Linked DNA regions of Homo sapiens: region 1 is linked to region 2. The links come from fine-mapping of genetic effects on gene expression. A gene starts in region 2. The other region holds a variant in brackets. All regions are shown on one strand. Distances are from middle to middle.

The links. PIP is the estimated chance that this variant, and not a neighbour inherited with it, causes the effect.
Region 1: its variant is the best candidate, but not a certain one, in a credible set for the expression of HNRNPDL in monocytes (Fairfax 2014, PIP 0.86).

Annotation. Positions count from the first base shown.
Region 1 is chr4:82,395,852-82,401,224 of GRCh38, forward strand. No RefSeq gene overlaps it. Among named protein-coding and RNA genes, the nearest start is that of HNRNPD-DT, 24 kb to the left of the region's middle. The variant G/GA (reference allele first, on the strand shown) is at 2,547.
Region 2 is chr4:82,428,253-82,433,625 of GRCh38, forward strand. HNRNPDL (heterogeneous nuclear ribonucleoprotein D like) reads right to left here and starts at 2,210. Exons shown (of 8, transcript NM_031372.4): 1 at 996-2,210; 2 at 26-194. The coding sequence starts at 1,438. ENOPH1 (enolase-phosphatase 1) reads left to right here and starts at 2,338. Exons shown (of 6, transcript NM_021204.5): 1 at 2,338-2,661. The coding sequence starts at 2,578. RefSeq lists silencers at 659-828, 1,139-1,378, 1,749-2,148, 2,269-2,588 and enhancers at 874-1,669, 1,049-1,108, 1,429-1,518, 1,670-2,465, 2,829-2,928.

The sequences.
Region 1 (5,373 bases), 32 kb before region 2:
GAATAAACCATCCATATCAGTTAGGGAATGGTGGAAATCTCCCCAAATTCAAGGTCCCAGACACCAGTCAAGGGCCAATCTGGTAAGCAGGCTTCTCTTTTTATTTATTGATTGATTGATTTACTTATTTATTTATTTATTTATTTTTGAGATGGAGTCTCGCTCCCTCCCCCAGGCTTGAGTGCAGTGGTGCGATCTCGGCTCACTGCAAGCTCCGCCTCCCGGGTTCACGCCATTCTCCTGCCTCAGCCTCCCGAGTAGCTGGGACTTCAGGCGCCCGCCACCACACCCGGCTAATTTTTTGTATTTTTAGTAGAGACGGGGTTTCACCGTGCTAGCCAGGATGGTCTCGATCTCCTGACCTTGTGATCCGCCCCCTCGGCCTCTCAAAGTGCTGGGATTACAGGCGTGAGCCACCGCGCCCGGCCGGCCGTAAGCAGGCTTTTCTAAGGATAGCAGTCTCCAGCCTGCTGTGTTCATGCTTTTTTTTTCACACCATAGGATAGACTATTATTCAGTGATAAAAAGGAATAAAGTACTGATATGTACTCCAACATGGATGAAGCGGGGAACATCACGTTAAGTGAAAAAGCCAGTAACACAAGGCCACATATTGTATGATTCCATGTATATTAAATGCCCGGAAGCAAACCTATAAAGACGGAACAGACAGTAGTGGTTGCCTAGGGCTGGGACGTCAGAGAGAAATAAGGAGCAATTGCTAATAGGTAAAGAATTTCTTTTTGGGGCTATACAAATGTTCTGAAATTCATTGCAGTAATGGGTACACAGCTTTGTCAATACACTAAAAACCATACAATTTTACTCTTTAAATAAATTAATTGCATGAAATGTGAATTATAGCTCAAAAAAGCTGTTAAAAATAAAGAATGTGGCCGGGTGCGGTGACTCACGCCTGTAATCCCAGCACTTTGAGAGGGCGAGGCGGGTGGATCATGAGGTCAAGAGATTGAGACCATCCTGGCCAACATGATGAAACCCTGTCTCTACTAAAAATACAACAACAACAACAACAACAAAAAATTAGCTGAGTGTGATGGCGCGCGCCTGTAGTCCCAGCTACTCAGGAGGCTGAGGCAGGAGAATTGCTTGAACCCGGGAGGCAGAGGTTGCAGTGAGCCAAGATCACGCCACTGCACTCCAGCCTGGCGACAGAGCGAGACTCCGTCTTTAAATAAGTAAATAAATAAATAAAGGGGCCGGGCGCAGTGTTCATGCCTGTAATCCCAGCACTTTGGGAGGCCAAGGCAGGCAGATTACCTGACGTCAGGAGTTCGAGACTAGCCTGGCCAACACGGCAAAACCCCGCCTCTATCAGAAAATACAAAAATTAGCTGGGCGCGATGTCATGTGCCTGTGGTGCCAGCTACTCAGAGGCTGAGGCAAGAGAATCGCTTGAACCCAGGAGGCAGAGGTCGCAGTGAGCTGAGATCGCGCCACTGCACTCTAGCCTGGGCAACAGAGCGAGACACTGTCCCCACACCCTCCAAAAAACAAAAAAATAAAGAAAGAAAGAAAGAAGAGAAGCAGTTGCTCATTTTAGTATGTGCCTTTTTTTTTTTTTTTTTTTTTGCCTTTAGGAATATAAATTCAAGAATATTTGTAAGCAAAAAGGAAGAATAAAATCCCAAACGAGAATGTAGTTAGCTGAGGTATTATACTTCTTGGGTGAGCTTATAGAAATCTTCAATTGGATTATATAATTTTTATTCATAAAGTTTATATTTCCAAATGTTGAATCAGCTGTTGATTTTAAGCAATGTGTGTCACAACTGCTAATGACAGGAGTCACATCAGTGCTAGAAGAGAAAAAATGCACATATGTATTTGTGCTAATAGTTGTTATGCATGCCTCTATCCTTTTTTCTATACAATATACTGTACTACTAGCTAACATTAAAAGTCCTCCTTTAGAACAAAATATAGTAAATTAATAAGTCCCCAGAGGCCGGGCGTGGTAGCTCATATCTGTAATCCCAGCACTTTGGGAGGCCCAGGCAGGCAGATAACTTGAGCTCAGGAGTTCGAGACCAGCCCAGCCAACATGGGAAAACCCTGTCCCTACTAAAAATACAGAAATTAGGCTGGGCACAGTGGCTCACACTTGTAATCCCAGTACTTTGGGAGGCAGAGGCAGGCAGATCACAAGGTCAGGAGTTTGAGACCAGCCTGACCAACACAATGAAACCCCGTCTCTACTAAAAATACAAAAATTAGCTGGGTGTGGTAGCGGGCACCTGTAATCCCAGCTACTTGGGAGGCTGAGGCAGGAGAATCGCTTGTACCTGGGAGGTAGAGGTTCCAGTGAGCCAAGATCGCGCCTCTGCACTCCAGCCTGGGCAACAGAGCTAGACTCCATCTCAAAAAAAAAAAAATTAGCTGGGCATGGTGGTGGACACCTATAATCCCAGCTACTTGGGAGTTTGAGGTGGGAGAATAGCTTGAACCAGGTAAGCAGAGGTTGTAGTGAGCTGAGATCATGCCACTGCACTCCAGCCTGGGCAACAAACCAAGACGCTGTCTCA[G/GA]AAAAAAAAAAAAAAAAGTCCCCAGAGACTTTAGCCATCTTAGCAGATCACCCTTGTGAACCCAAAAGGAAAGTGGAAATATGAGTTTTGAGTAGGTAAATTGATCTGCTGACATTACCAGCCCAGCATTCTCCAGGCTCTCCATTTCATGAAGAAAGACCTAGCCTTCCCTCTTGATGCTCACAGCAGAACTGCTGGGTAGGTTCTCCTATACACAAACTTCTGGGCATTCTTTTCTTCCCTTTGTTTCAGAAGTACCATTGTATATCCTTCACTGGCTCTGTGCTATATCCAAAGCAGTTTTTTCTGTTTCATTTTCCTGTGAAAAAAATTAAATTCCCGGTTTTTTGTTCTTTCTAACATCCCCCTTCTGCAACAGTCTCTTTATGACCCCAGATTCCCACAGCACTTTTTTTTTAATCCCAGCTATTTCTCCACATATCCAAAAATTATTTCTACCAACTGCTTCCCATTTTCTTAGTGCATGTCTTCCAGCTGTTGGCTTACCAAGAGAGATTTAGATAAACTAAAATACATTAAATATGTATATGATTGATATGCTCTTTAACTTTCTATTTTTAACTAAATTTCTATTTACCTTTTTTTTTTTTTTTTTTTAGACGGACCCTCGCTCTGTCCCCCAGGCTGGAGTGCAGTGGTGCGATCTCTGCTCACTGCAAGCTCCGCCTCCCAGGTTCACGCCATTCTCCTGCCTCAGCCTCCCAAGTAGCTGGGACTACAGGCGCCCGCCACCACGCTTAGCTAATTTTTTGTATTTTTTTAGTAGAGACGGGGTTTCACTGTGTCAGCCAGGATGGTGTCAATCTCCTGAGCTCATGATCTGCCTGCCTCAGCCTCCCAAAGTGTGGGATTATAGGCATGAGCTACCATGCCCGGCTGAGTAATATCTATTTTTAAGTTACTTATTTTTAAAATAAAAATGTCACATTGTAGAAAATTCATAAAATATGGGTTTTTTCCTTTTCTTTTGTCCTTTTTTTTTAATTGCTACTAAAAAGTAGTTCTCACCATTGTTTAAGTTTGAAAAATGCCCACACTTAATTATTTCTTTCTTTCTTTTTCTTTTTTTTTGAGTTGGGGTCGCCCAGGCTGGAGTACAGTGCCATGATCTCCCCATGATCTCCGCTCACTGCAACCTCTGCCTCCTGGGCTCAACCAATTTGCCAACCTCAACCTCCCAAGTAGCTGGGACCACAAGCGTGCACTGCCACACCTGGCTAATTTTTTGTATTTTGTATTTTTCACAGAGATGGGTTTCACTGTGTTGCCCAGGTTGGCCTCAAACTCCTGGGCTCAAGCGATCTGCCCGCCTTGGCCTCCCAAAGTGGCTGGGATTACAGGCATGAGCCACCACTCTAGGCCAAACAATTATTTCAATTATTCTTCCTGAGTAGAAAGTGAATGAGCAAATATTTGTGATACCTAACAGTCATTTCAGGAAGTCTAAAGATATTTGAAGGATAAAAAACATCTTAACATTTTTATTATTCTGAATTTAGGGCCTAATATAAAGGCAGAATGAAGAAGAATTGTCAGAAGATATAAGGTATGAACAGAAATTATAATTTTTAAAATCCAAGACCTCCGGGCACGGTGGCTCACACCGGTAATCCCAGCACTTTGGGAGGCTGAGGCGGGCGGGTCACTTGAGGTCAGGAGCTGGAGACCAGCCTGCCAACAGGGTGAAACCCCGTCTCTACTAAAAATACAAAAATTAGCCGGGTGTGGTGGTGCGCCCAGTGGTGTAATCCCAGCTACTTGGGGGGCCAAGGCAGGAGAATCACTTAAATCCGGGAGGTGGAGGTTGCCGTGAACCCAAATTGTGCCACTGCACAATTTGTGCCTGGTCAACAAAGGGAGACTCCGTCTCAAATTAAAAAAATAAAATTTATCTGGGCATGGCGGCACATGCTGGTAGCTCCAGCTACTGGAGAGGCTGAGGTGGGAGGATGGCTTGAACCTAGGAGGTCAAGGCTGCAGTGAGTGGAGACTGTACCACTGCATTCCAGCCTGGGTGACAGAGCGAGACCCTATCAAAACAAACAAAAACTCCAAAAGACAGTTATAGTTATTATACGTATTTAAAAACCACGTCAGTAGGGAACAGTTATTACTAGGAACTTAACTGAAAAGTGAGGAATTTTTGGTCAAAATTATTCCAGAGTATGCCAAGAAGTCTAGAGAATTAATAGAGTATTTTGGTGTTTCAAAAGGATAGCTGTTATCTGGTCACAGACTAACTTAGTCATTTTCCAAAAAGAAAATCCAAATTCTAATTTGACTTTTTTTATTTTAGAATATCATCCATGCAACAATTTTTAGTCAAGAATTTATCTGTTTTTAATAAATCTACTAACATTGATTTCACCTTAAAATTTTTTAACCATTTATAGATGATTCTTCAATTGATCTTAATATACATTTATATGTGTGTGTTTAGACATATATAATTACATGGCTATGTAAATAAGTTACAAAATTAAAGCTTTTAACTTTAAGATAAAATTAATCCAATCAGTATATTAAATAAATCAATGTATTTATACTTGAAATTATAATGTAAATATATCCAGAATTTATTTAATAAACTATATTATCTTGCATACATATTCATATTTCTCTGTAATTATTATGAGTATAGCCTTTATTGTTTTATTAATTATCACTTTTAGCCAAAGCAACCAACTTTTGTTTTTTGCATGGATGTCTAGAAGACAGTAAACCAAGAAATATCTACCTAATTTTTTTGGTACACATTTTAGACTATCTTCATAAATGTTAAGCTGGCAAAACAAACCAATATATG
Region 2 (5,373 bases):
GCACAATGCAAAACATAGTTCCTACCTTATCAACACTAGCAGCATCTTTGAAAAGCACAAATCCAAATCCTCTTGATCTCCCAGTGACTGGATCTGTTTTAATTGTGCAGTCTACAACTTCCCCAAATCGAGACAAGTACTCTGTCAGATCTTTTTTGCTTGTATCCCAGCTCAAGCCTCCAATAAACATTTTACTAGAAATAAAAGTGTTTTTAAAAAAAATTAACAATAACTCAAATGATCCTTCAGTTCTGGAATTAAATCGTGAAATAAAAACAGGGACATTTACCCCCTAAGTGTAGGCAATTTAATTCATGTTTACATTTAATCTATGTCACACAAAAATCCCAATATCCCAACGAAGTTACTCAAACCAGCGGACAGCTCACTGTCCGCACTACATAAAGCAAAGCTCAAAAGAGACCAATAAAATACAGTAAAGGTTCTGCCCAGATTCCTTTAGGTAGAAGGCACAACTTCCTAGATGAATCCCTCACATCTTATCTTACTTAGGTCCATCTTCGTTCTCAGCTGTCAAGCCAACGTTCCACCCAGAGAACTCATCAATCATAACACGTTTTGTGAATCTGGGTACCAGTCGCCTGCTTGTGCCCCAACTCAGTCCTCTAAAACTCTTCCCAGGAAAACCGCGCCGAGTGGTAACAGAGACACAATGAAGAGGCGGCGGCAGCTGCAGCGTGCAGCGCTGGGAGGCCGGCCCCTCCCCCCCGGGTCCCACGCGGCGCCTGCGCGCTCGGGACACAGACGCCGCCGCCCTCCTCCTCCAACCCCTCCGCCCTTCCCCCACTCTTCCCGGGTCTCTCCAGTCACCCCCTCGATCTCTTACTTTCCTCTTCCCTCCAATCTAGTGGGGCCCAGAAGGCACGCGGGGAATCGACTCTGAGAAAGAATGGGGGCAGCGCGCGGCTCACGAGGAACGAAGGGCGCGTGCGGCGCGCTGGGGGAGGGGGAGCGGGGGAAGAAGCGTGCGGTACCCGTCATCCTGCTGATTCTTGCTCGCGTTGATCTTGGATCCCTCTGCGAATTCCTCTATATTGCTGTACTCGTTCATATCCTCCATAGTGACGGAGCTGTCGGCAGGGGGGTGCTGGCGCGCAGTCCGGGTCGCGGCAGCAGCGGCGGCGGAGCGTTGTATGGAGCTGGATTTAAAATGGCGGCGGAAGAGATCCGGGCGCCGCCTGCGCCCTCCCTTTATAGCCGCCCCGCCCGCCAATCGGGAGGGCTGCTGGGCGGTGACGTGGCGCTGGGCCCGGCGCGCCCCCTGCCGGGCGGAGCTGGGAGCGAGCGAAGGGAGGAGCGGGGCTAGCTGCCGCGGCGGCCGCGGCCGCCAATGGGAGAGGCTGCGGGAGGCTAAAGTAGCGGGAGCGGAGGGGAACAATGGCGGCGGCACATGGGAAAGCCTGGGCGGGACCTCCATCGCGGCCCTCCCGGCAAGGAGAGAGGCCACGCGTGAGGGGACGCGGGCTTGGGAGAAGAGAAGAATCAGAAGAGAAAAACGAAGGGGCGTAAATTCCTGGGGTCAGCAGTCCCGAGCAGAGCCGACGCAGGGCCACAGTCCCTCTTGCCTTGGGAGCCTTTGTCTCTGGCGTCCGGTCCAGCCCACTCCTACCAAAAAGCCGTCAACCCCGCCTTTTTCTGCCCTCGGTTCGCCAGTGCGGAGCCGCTGCGGCGGCCGCTGCTACCGACTAGCACCGCGGCCAGTCTGCTCCGGAAAAAGGCGGACTGCGCCCGGCGCTGGCGACTGAGGCGGCGAGCGCGCTCGCCCGCCGCGCGCACGCGTGTTTTGTCCTCGAGCTGGCAGGAACCAGCCGAACAGGAAGCGGGCGCGCGACGGCTCCTCCGGGCAGCGCAGCGCGGGCGCCTCTTCCACTGTGACCACGGGCGCGCGGGCCAAGGGGGCGCGGCGGGGCCTCCCGGGCTGATCGGCCGAAGCCCGGGCCCCGCGCGGCCTCTGGCGGGCTGACGCCGGGAGGAGGGGCGGGGGCTGGCCAGATGACTGTATCTATGCAAAGGCGGAGGCGGTGGGCGGGGAGGGGGCTGGATTCAGTAGAGGGCAAGGGGCACTCACATCCCCGGCGCGCCACTCGCGGGGCTCCTTTCTGCACGTGCCCCGGGCCTCTCCCGCTCGCTCAACCTGTCTGCGGAGGGCGCGCTCTCGCGCACCCTGCTCCCGCGTTCGCTTCTTTGTTCCCGCCCACGCGAGGCCCATTTTGACGGATCCAGTTCGAGGCCTGACGGCGGCCAATCGGCGCTGGCGCCTTCACCCTCCCCGCCCCGCCGAACCCGTCAAGGGCCGCCCCTTTTCCTGCCCACGTGGTCTCGGGCTCCTGCCCCGTCCTGCTCACGAGTTCAGGGCTCCTGGGCGGCCGCCTTTTCCAGTTCCAGGTGTGCAGAAGTGTCCTCTCCCCACGCGCGGCGGGCTGCACTTGGTCGCTGGCTCCGAGATCGCGCGGGGCCGCCGGAAGCCCAAGACGGTACCGGGGGCCGCAGCCGCAGCCGGCGCCGCCCTCCGCCCTCCCCAACAGCAGGCCGAGTCCCGTAGCATCCGGTAGGGAAATGGTCGTGCTTTCGGTCCCCGCCGAAGTCACCGTGATCCTGTTAGATATCGAAGGTACCACAACCCCGATTGCTTTCGTGAAGGTGAGGGGCGGAAGGGAGCGGGGATGTTACTTTTCCTTAAAAACAGTTATTATTTTTTCTAAGTATTTCAGGCCTTGCATTGGAGACGAGGGTTAGGAGAGGCGGTGTGGCTGCCTCTTGTGTGGAATGGGGAGGAAGGAGAGAAAGCCTGCGGTGGGTTGCGGGGATGCTTTTCCTCGCGACACTAGCTTCTCCCTCCCCCGCCCTTGCGCTTGGTTGGATCCAGATGGGTGGGAAGGGATGGAAGTTGACGCTAAAAATCACCGAAGGGCAGGTAAGCCGGGGCGGGGTGTGACGGTGCGGGCCTCGCCACCCGGCAGGTGTGCACCCGGTCGCTTCCGCAGGTGAGCGCAGCCTTTCTGCTCCGTCGGGCCTGGTGTGGCAGCGGCAGCGATTTAATGGTCCTTAAAGCTTCCGATCTCAAAATGGAAAGACTGAAGTGTCAAGATGACTTTTCAGGTGGCCCTGGTGTCGGGCAATCAAGGTTCCTCTTCGCCCCTTCCCACTCTTGCTGTTAGTGGCCAAACTGCACAGTGTATTATTTTACTCTGTTAGGCGCTGTGGTCCATAGCGCTGATTTTTTGAGCTATAGGACACGTCTAGATTCCGTTCACTTTCCTCAGAAAACCACAGAAGCTTGAAGCTCTTATCCAGAGCATTCCTTCTAGGATGTCACTGTGAACCAGCACTTGTCTGCACCTCAGCTTGCAACTTAGCGGATTCCTTCTTTATTCTTTGTCTGTTAGAATAAGCAAATATGAAATGTTACTTTAATTTTTGAAAGAATTCCTCGGGCCTTGTCTTTTTATTTGGCTCCCTGAGGTTTAAGAATTCATTGCAGATACAAGTACTTCTTAGAGGTGCTTGCATGCACAATAATAGTCGAGATATACAAAGTATATTACCAAGTAGGAAAAATCCATCTTCCAAGAAACTGAGCAGCTTGGGTTTTAAATTCTATTTTAGTTTCCATTTTTAAAAAAAATTATCTGTGAATAAGGCTTTTTTTTTTTTTTCTTTGAGAGTCTCACTCTGTTCCCAGGCTGGAGTGGAGTGGAGTGGTGCAATCACAGCTCACTGCAGCCTCTACCTCCTTGGGCTTAAGGCATCCTCCTGCCCCAGCCTCTCGAGTAGTTGGGACTGAAGGGAGAGCCACCATGCCTGGCTAATTTTTGTATTTTTTGTAGAGACGGGGTTTCGCCATATTGCCCAGGCTAGTCTGGAATTCTTGGCCTCCCAAAGTGCTGAGATTACAGGCATGAGCCAAGGCGCCTGGCCTGAATGAGTTTCTTGATGTAGGTTATAATATAAAATCCATGTACACTTTTAGGACACCAAACATAACAACCTTTAAAATTCTTTTAGAAGAATCACAGTACCTTGACATCTTAGCATAGGTTCAGAAGAAATCGAGTTTAGCATTTTCTCCACGGTTTTTGTTTTTGTTTTGAGGCGGAGTCTCGCTCTGTTGCCCAGGCTGGAGTGCAGTGGTGTGAGCTCAGCTCACTGCAACCTCTGCCTCCCAGCTTCAAGCGATTCTTCTGTCGCAGCCTCTCCAGTAGCTGGGATTACAGACATGTGCCACCACACCCAGCTAATTTTTATATTTTTAGTAGAAGAGGGTTTCACCAGGCTGGTCTCAAACTCCTGACCTCAAGTGATTCACCCACCTCAGCCTCCCAAAGTGCTGGAATTACAGGCGTGAACCATGGCACCCGGCCTCTTCCCCACGTTTTGTTTTGTTTTGTTTTGTTTTGTTTGAGACAGAGTCTTGTTCTGTCTCCCAGGCTGGAATACAGTGGTGCAACCTCTGCTTCCGGGGTTCAAGCGATTCTGGTGCCTCAGCCTTCCGAGTAGCTGAGATTACAGACGCGCACCACCACGCCCGGCTAATTTTTGTATTTTTAGTTGACCAGGCTGGTCTGACCTCAGGTAATCCTCCCGTGTCGGCCTCCCAAAGTGCTGGGATTATAGGCGCGAGCCACCGCGCCTGACCTTCCCCCACGTTTTTAATCACACCAGAGACCTCTGCGGAAAATTTCAGGACAAATACTGATGATTGATTAATTTCCTTTTTTTTTGGATTGTGACAGAGTAACCGCTTTCTTGGTTTTCAGAGAAAAAAGGAGTCCTCATTTTTGTAATTTATAGTTAACAGCTCACTCGTTCCACTCTGGCTCTCTCTTGCTTTCTGCGGTCATCAGGAGACCAAGGATAAGGACAGGAGAGGTAGTGATGTGGCATTAGATCATTAGATACTACCGTTTTCTGAAGGTAGATTTGGGGAGTAAGAAACCTCATACAAAATCAATTTTGCAACAAAACATAATACCCCTCCCCCACCTTTTTCCCCAAGTGTGTCTTCTGCTAGATGACATTATGAGCCACTTCTTGGAATCTTTGTGTCTGTGGCAGACTTATTCTGAAATCCAAAAATAAAAATGTCTTAGTTGCCTAAATAAATTTTTCTGAATTTGACGCTAGGCAATGTGCAATTTCAATGCAGGCTGCAAAAGAATGATTTAGGGATCTTGTTTAAAGGATAATTTCTTGTGCCCTGTCCTATAATAATATCTATTGTTATTAATATTGTTAATCTATTATAATCTAATCTATTATTATAATTTGTTAGACATGAATTTATCAAAACCATTTTTCCTAAAAGTATGTTTAAAAGAAAGTTAGGTCTGTGTGGATGTTTATGGTAATTAT